Homo sapiens: one gene and its partner. The protein of the gene in region 1 purifies or fractionates together with the protein of each later gene. This does not show direct contact. Each region holds a gene or a part of one and is shown on either strand. Other genes may lie near its edges.

Region 1 (3,500 bases):
CACTTTCTCTTCTCTTCCTTTCTCTAATCCTGAAAAAAGAAGGAATAGTGAAGTAATGAATGGAAAACTTAGAATTTGCAGTTAATAAAATTTTACATGTTAATATATGGTTAGCACGATGGAACTAAAAATAGTTTTAAGGCTTTGGGCCAGATGTATTATGCTTTGGGCCAGATGTATTATGCAATCTATTACACAGATTACTTAAACCAGAAAGCCCATGTGTTAAAAATTTGAGCCAGGCCAGACGAAGTGGCTCACGCATGTAATCCCAGCACTTTGGGAGGCCCAGGCAGGCGGATCACTTGAGGTCAGGAGTTGCAGACCAGCCTGGCCTTAACATGGTGAAACCCTGTCTCTACTAAAAATACAAAAAATTAGCCGAGCTGGTAGTGTGCGACTAATTCCAGCTACTCAGGAGGCTGAGGCAGGAGAATCGCTTGAACCCAGGAGGCAGACAGAGGATGCAGTGAACCCAGAATGCACCACTGCACTCCAGCCTGAGTGACAGAGCAAGATTTCATCTAAAACAAAAAACAAAAAACATTCAAGTCAGAATTTGTAAATGTGTAAATGGAAAGATATGAAATAAACTTTGTAAATCTCTCTAGGCTGGGAATTTAAAACAAGATGGTTATTCACTGAAAATCTGTGTGTATAGTTGTCCAACTGCAAAAATAAGAAAACTAAAATCTTAAAAATATAAATTGCCACTTAACTGTAAACTAATAATACTTTACAAAATAAAAAATACCAAAACATGGAAAACTTAAAACATTTATGTGTAGGTAGATACTTTGTTTCTTTTTTCTTTTGTTTTTTTGAGACAGAGTCTCCCTCTATCCCCCAGGCTGGAGTGCAGTGATGGTGACACGATCTTGGCTCAGTGCATCCTCTTCCTCCCAGGTTCAAGCGATCCTTGTTCCTCAGCCTCCCAAGTAGCTGAGACTACAGGCATGTGCCACCATGCCCGGCTAATTTTTGTATTGTTAGTAGAGACAGGGTTTTGCCATGTTGCCCAGGCTGCTCTCGAACTCTAGACCTAGGTGATCCACCCACCTCGGCCTCCCAAAGTGCTGGAATTACAGGCGTGAGCCACTGCACCTGGCCTGTTACTCTTTTTTAGATTTTAACTTGTGGTGCTTTTAGTAATGTCTTCATTGGCTTGAAGCTGACAAATGATAATGAATTATCATTTATGAACTGTTATAATAGAAATATAAATTGTTCTGGGTACAGTGTAATCCCAGAACTTTGAGAGGCTGGGATCACACCTGTAATCCCAGCACTTTGAGAGGCTGAGGCAGGTGACTGCTCAAGCCCAGGAGTTAGAGACCAGCCTGGGCAACATGGCAAAACCTCGTCTCTACAAAAAAAAATACAAAAATTACCTAGGCGTGGTGATGTACACCTGTGATGCCAGCTACTTCCAGCTACTCAGGAGGCTAAGGTGGGAGGATCACTTGAGCTGTGAAGGTTTAGGTTGCAGTGAGCTGAGATAGTGCCACTACACTCTAGCCTGGGTGACAGAGCAAGACCCTATCTCAAAAAAATAAAAAATACATATGTATATATATAGCATTAAAAGTATTCCAAAAGAAAAAAAATACATGATCATCTGTATAAAAGAGCACCTGGGTTAGATTTTATTTGTGTTATCATTTGGTTCATGGGTCTCTTAAATGCTTAGAAGGTAAAATATGACCCAACAATGTATCTGGCTCAGCACATGTTATTTTTGCGTATTGCGGGATATAAAAGAATTAGGTTATAATTTGAAAGGGTCATAATAGCACTTTTTCTATAATTATTTAAATATTCTTCCATGTAAATTATGTTTCTTCATTTTCATTGTAATTAACAATAAAATATTTCAATGGCCAATCTTTTATTGTACTATGCTATATATTATACAGTTTGTTTTCAACAAATATGCCGTATCCAGGTCTTATATTTAAAATAGTATACAGAATATCACTGTACCTACTCTTTTGGGCTGAATATTTATTTATTTTATTTTTAAAGGTTTAATGAAGAGGCTAGAGGAGGAGATAAAATTTAATTTATATATGGTAACTGAAAAATTTCCTAAAGAATTAGAAAATAAGAAAAAGGAATTACATTTTTTACAAAAAGTAGTTTCAGAGCCAGCTATGGGCCATTCTGATCTTCTTGAACTTGAATCTAAAGTAAGTGAGAATCATCTTTTTATAGCTCTCAATTTTATCTGATCCCCAGTCCTATAAAATTATGTGAACTGCTTTCTGTAGTATCCCACTATTGACTCTTAAATTAACCTGTGCTAAGAGTTGACAACTCTTATGAGGAATTGTCCTTTATGAGGAATTATAGAATGTTATGCTATTACTTAATCCACATGATGTTATGAAAACATAATCAATTGATTAGCAAATGAAGTAACTTAAATATGTAAATTAATGCATATGAATTGACCAGTGGGTTTATGTCTTCATAATGTAAGCATTTAGATGGGAAATTTGGAAATATTTTAATTGTCATTAATTTTTATTTCCAAGCAAAATATTATAGCAATTTTATATTTAAAGCTAATATTTTTATTAACCTTGTATACCTGCCTTGGAATTACTAAATATTGTAATGCTTATTGAAAGCTGGTATCAGGTTATACCTTTTTTTTTTTTTTTTTTTTTGAGACAGTACTTGCTCTGTTGCCCAGGCTAGAGTACAGTGGCACAATCTTCTCAGCTCACTGCAACCTCTGCCTCCTGGGTTCAAGTGATTATCCAGCCTCAGCCTCCCAACTAGCTGGGATTACAGGCACGAACCACCATGCCCGGCTAATTTTTTGTTGTTGTTGTTGTTTTTGTTGTTGTTGTTTTGTTTTTTGTTTTTTTTTGAGACAGAGTCTCGTTCTGTTGCCCAGGCTGGAGTGCAGTAGCGTGATCTCGGCTCACTACAACCTCCGCTTCCCGAGTTCAAGCGATTCTCCTGCCTCAGCCTCCTGAGTAGCTGGGATTACAGGCACGCGCCACCACGCCTGGCTAATTTTTGTATTTGTAGTAGAGACAGGGTTTCACCGTGTTGGTCATGCTGGTCTCAAACTCCTGACCTTGTGATCCACCCATCTCAGCCTCCCAAAGTGCTGGGATTACAGGCATGAGCCACCGCACCAGGACTTGTTTTGTTTTTTGAGACGGAGTCTTGCTCTGTTGCCTAGACTGGAGTGCAGTGGTGAGATCTCAGCTCCCTGCAACCTCTGCCTCCCGGGTTCAAGCCATTCTCCTGCCTCAGCCTCCCAAGTAGCTGGGACTACAGATATGTGCCACCATGCCTGGCCAATTTTTTTATTTTTAGTAGAGACGGGGTTTTGCCATTTGTCCAGGCTGGTCTTGAACTCCTGACCTCAGGTGATCTGCCCGCCTCAGCCTCCCAAAGTGCTGGGATTACAGGTGTGAGCCACTGTGCTTGGCCTGATTATACCATTTTTGTTCCCTAGAATTAAAATGCTAGGTCAGGTG
Region 2 (3,500 bases), on another chromosome or scaffold:
CACACTTAAGGCTGAGAAACTGTATACTTCCCCCAAAGACTGGGAATAACACGAGGATGTCCTATCTCACCACTCCTATTCAACAGTGTTCCAGAAGTCCTAGCTAGTGAAATGAAGCAAGCAAAGGAAATAAAATACCTTAGGAAGAAAGGAATAAAGTGGTCTTCATTTGCAAAAGACATGATTGTTTATTTAGGAAATGCTAAAGAATTAACAAAAAAAACCCCCTAAAAGTAAAAAGTGAGTATAGCAAAGTCACAGTATATAAGGTTAATATACAAAAGTCAAATGTTTTCCTATATACTGGCAATAAATGATTAGAATGAAATATAAAACTAAAAACACCATTATCATAGCACAAAAAACACTTATAAGTCTAACAAAATATGTAAATGATCTGTATGTGACAAATTACAAAACTATGAAAGAAATCAAAGAAGGTTTTAGCTAGAAAAGGATAGTGGAACAGGACCTCCCCAGCCCTTGTCCTTCACAGAAACACCAATTTAGCAACCATCTATGTATAAAAGTGCCCTGATGGGTCCAAGTAGAAGGCTGTGACATCCTTCTGGAGTCCAAGACTGATAGAAGCCATTTTGAGAAGGCAGAATCATGCCCCAGTAGCAGGCATGTGACTACAGAACTGGCTCCAGACCCAGCAGCAGCCTCATCAGCATGTGGGCTTCAACTCACCTGTCCAAGGTCTCACAGGAAGACTTGTTTGTCTGGGAACCCAGAAGGAACCACACCCACCCAAGCCCCAGTAACAGGCCCACAACCGCAGACCTGATTTTGAACATGTAAGCAGACCCACAACCTGGCTCCACCTAAGTGACTGTGGTTTGGAAGTCAGTCTCACCAAGGGACCCAGCAAGAGAAGATCTTCATCTACTGAAATCACTCTGTTTAGTACAGAAGTGGGAACTGCTCCTTCAAATGTACAGACACCAATGAAAGACTCAAGGGATTATTAGTAAATACAACATGCCAAAGGAAACCAATAAGGTTACAGAAACTGACTATAACAAGATGAAGATCCATGATCTGCTTGACAAAGAATTCAAAATAATCATCTTAAGCTCAATGAGCTACAAAAACAAACAAACAAATAAACAAACCCAGATAGAAAATGAAATAAAAATCAGGAAAACAATACATGAACAAAAAGTTCAATAAAGGAGAAGCATAAAAAAGAACCAAACAGAAATCCTAGAGCTGAAGGATACAATGACTGAACTAAAAAATTCAATAGAAGGCTTCAACAACAGACTCAATCAACCAAAAGAAAGAATCAGCAAACCTGAACACCGGTCATATGAAATTATACAATTAGAGGAAGAAATATTAAAAAGAATAAAAAGTGAAATGAAGTAATACTACGGGACTTATGGTACACCACTAAGTAACTTAATAAACACATTATAAAAGTTCCAGAAGGCAAAAAGACAGAGAGAAAGGGGGCAGAAAGCACATTTAGATTATGGCTGAAAACTTACCAAATCTAGGGAGGAAAATGGACATCCAGACTCACGAAGCCCAAAAGTTCCCAAATAGGTTGAAGCCAAAGAGGTCTGTACCAATAGACACTATAATGAATTTGTCAAAATTCAAAGACAGAGAAAAAATTTTGACAGCAGTGACAGAAAAGTAACTTATTTCATATAACAGAGCCTCCATAAAGGTATTGGTGAATTTCTCAGCAGAACACTTGCAGGCCAGGAGAGAGGGAATGACATATTCAACATACTGAAAGTAAAAAAAGAAACCTGCCAACTGAAAATAATTACCTGAAAAAACTGTCTTCAGGAATGAAGGAAATAGCCAGGCATGGTGGCTCACACCTGTAATCCCAGCACTTGAGGAGGCTGAGGGCAGGCAGATTGCTTGAGCTCAGGAGTTCAAGACCACCCTGGCAAACATGGTGAAATCTTGTCTCTACAAAAAATACAAAAATTAGCCAGTCATGGTGGTGCATGCCTCTAGTCCCAGCTACCTGGGAGGCTGTGGTGGGAGGCTGACTTGAGCCCAGGAGGTTGAGGTTGCAATGAGCTGAGATCATGTCACTGCACTCCAGCCTGGGCAACAGAGCCAGACCTGGAAAAAAAAAAAAAAAAAAAAAAAAAGAAAAGAAAAAGATAAAAGAATAAAGAAAACATGAAAACTTCCTCAGATTAAAAAACTCAGGGAGTTTGTCACTTTTAGACATGCCCTAACAAGAAATGCTAACAGGAGATCTTCAAGTTAACTGAAAAGATACTAAACCAACAGTATGAAAGCATATGAAAGTATACATCTCACTGCTAAAAGCAAACATGAAAACAAACATGGAATATTGCAATACTGAAATCTGTGGCACGTAAATCTCATTGAACACTAGTATATAAATTAAAAGACAAAAATAGTATGAGTAACTACAACAACCACAGAAATTTGTTAATAGAAACAATATAGAAAGAAGTAAAATCTGAAATCAATTACATACATTGGTGAGGAAGAGGGGGGAGAAGTGTAGAGATTCTGAATATGAATGAAGTTGTTACTAGCTTTAAAAAGCCTGCTATGACTACATAATATTTGATGCAAACCCCATAGTAACCAAAATAAAAAGTATAGTAAATAAACAAAAAAAAGAAAAAAATCAAAGCATTCTACTACAATCATCAAATCACAAAGACAACAAACAAGAGAAAAACAGGAGAAACAGAAAGCAAATAGAAAACAATGAATAAAATGGAAACAATTAAGTACTTAATTATTAAAAATTATTACTTTAAATTTTTAATAATTAAGGGCTCTCAGTAGACATGGAATGGCTGAAATGGATAATAAAAACAACACTCAACTATACGCTATCTACAAGAGACTCTAACATTTAAGGACACACGTAGGCTAAAAGTGAAGGGATTGAGAAAGATATTCCATGCAAACTATAACCAAAAGAGAGCAGGGTGGCTATCTATATCAGACAAAATAGACTTTAAGTCGACAACTGTCAAAAGAGACAAAGAAGGCATTATATAATAGTAAAAGGGTCAATTCAATAGAAAGATACAACAACTAAAAATACATATGCACCCAACATCAAAGCACCTTAAAATATACAGTGAACATTGACAGATTTGAAGGAAGAAATAGATATCGATACAATATAGAAGGAGACTTTGATACATCACTCTCTATAATGTACAGGTCATCCAGACAGAATGCCAACAGCAAATATTGATAGAATTGGAGGAAGAAATAGATATCAATACAATACAGAAGGAGACTTTGATACGTCACTGTCTATAATGTACTGGTCATCCGGACAGAATACCAACAAGTAAATTGCAAACTATACAACACTATAGACCAAAGACCTAACATGCATATACAGAACATGAGACCCAACCATAGCAAAATAATCATTCTTCTCAAAAGGACATGAAACATTCTCTATAACTGATCACAGCCTAGGTCACAAAACAAGTCTTAACAAATTTAAGAAGACTAAAAACATT

Evidence for each region.
Region 2: the proteins of IFT81 (region 1) and CEP44 purify together in Homo sapiens (affinity purification with mass spectrometry; 3 studies listed by BioGRID and IntAct, with this or other methods). This does not show direct contact.

What each region holds. Positions count from the first base shown.
Region 1 is NC_000012.12:110,141,357-110,144,856, forward strand, and holds part of IFT81 (intraflagellar transport protein 81 homolog), read left to right. Parts: intron 1-2,025; coding exon 2,026-2,189; intron 2,190-3,500. UniProt on the Homo sapiens protein: Component of the intraflagellar transport (IFT) complex B: together with IFT74, forms a tubulin-binding module that specifically mediates transport of tubulin within the cilium. Binds tubulin via its CH (calponin-homology)-like region.
Region 2 is NC_000004.12:174,290,411-174,293,910, reverse strand, and holds part of CEP44 (centrosomal protein of 44 kDa), read right to left. Parts: intron 1-3,500. UniProt on the Homo sapiens protein: Centriole-enriched microtubule-binding protein involved in centriole biogenesis. In collaboration with CEP295 and POC1B, is required for the centriole-to-centrosome conversion by ensuring the formation of bona fide centriole wall.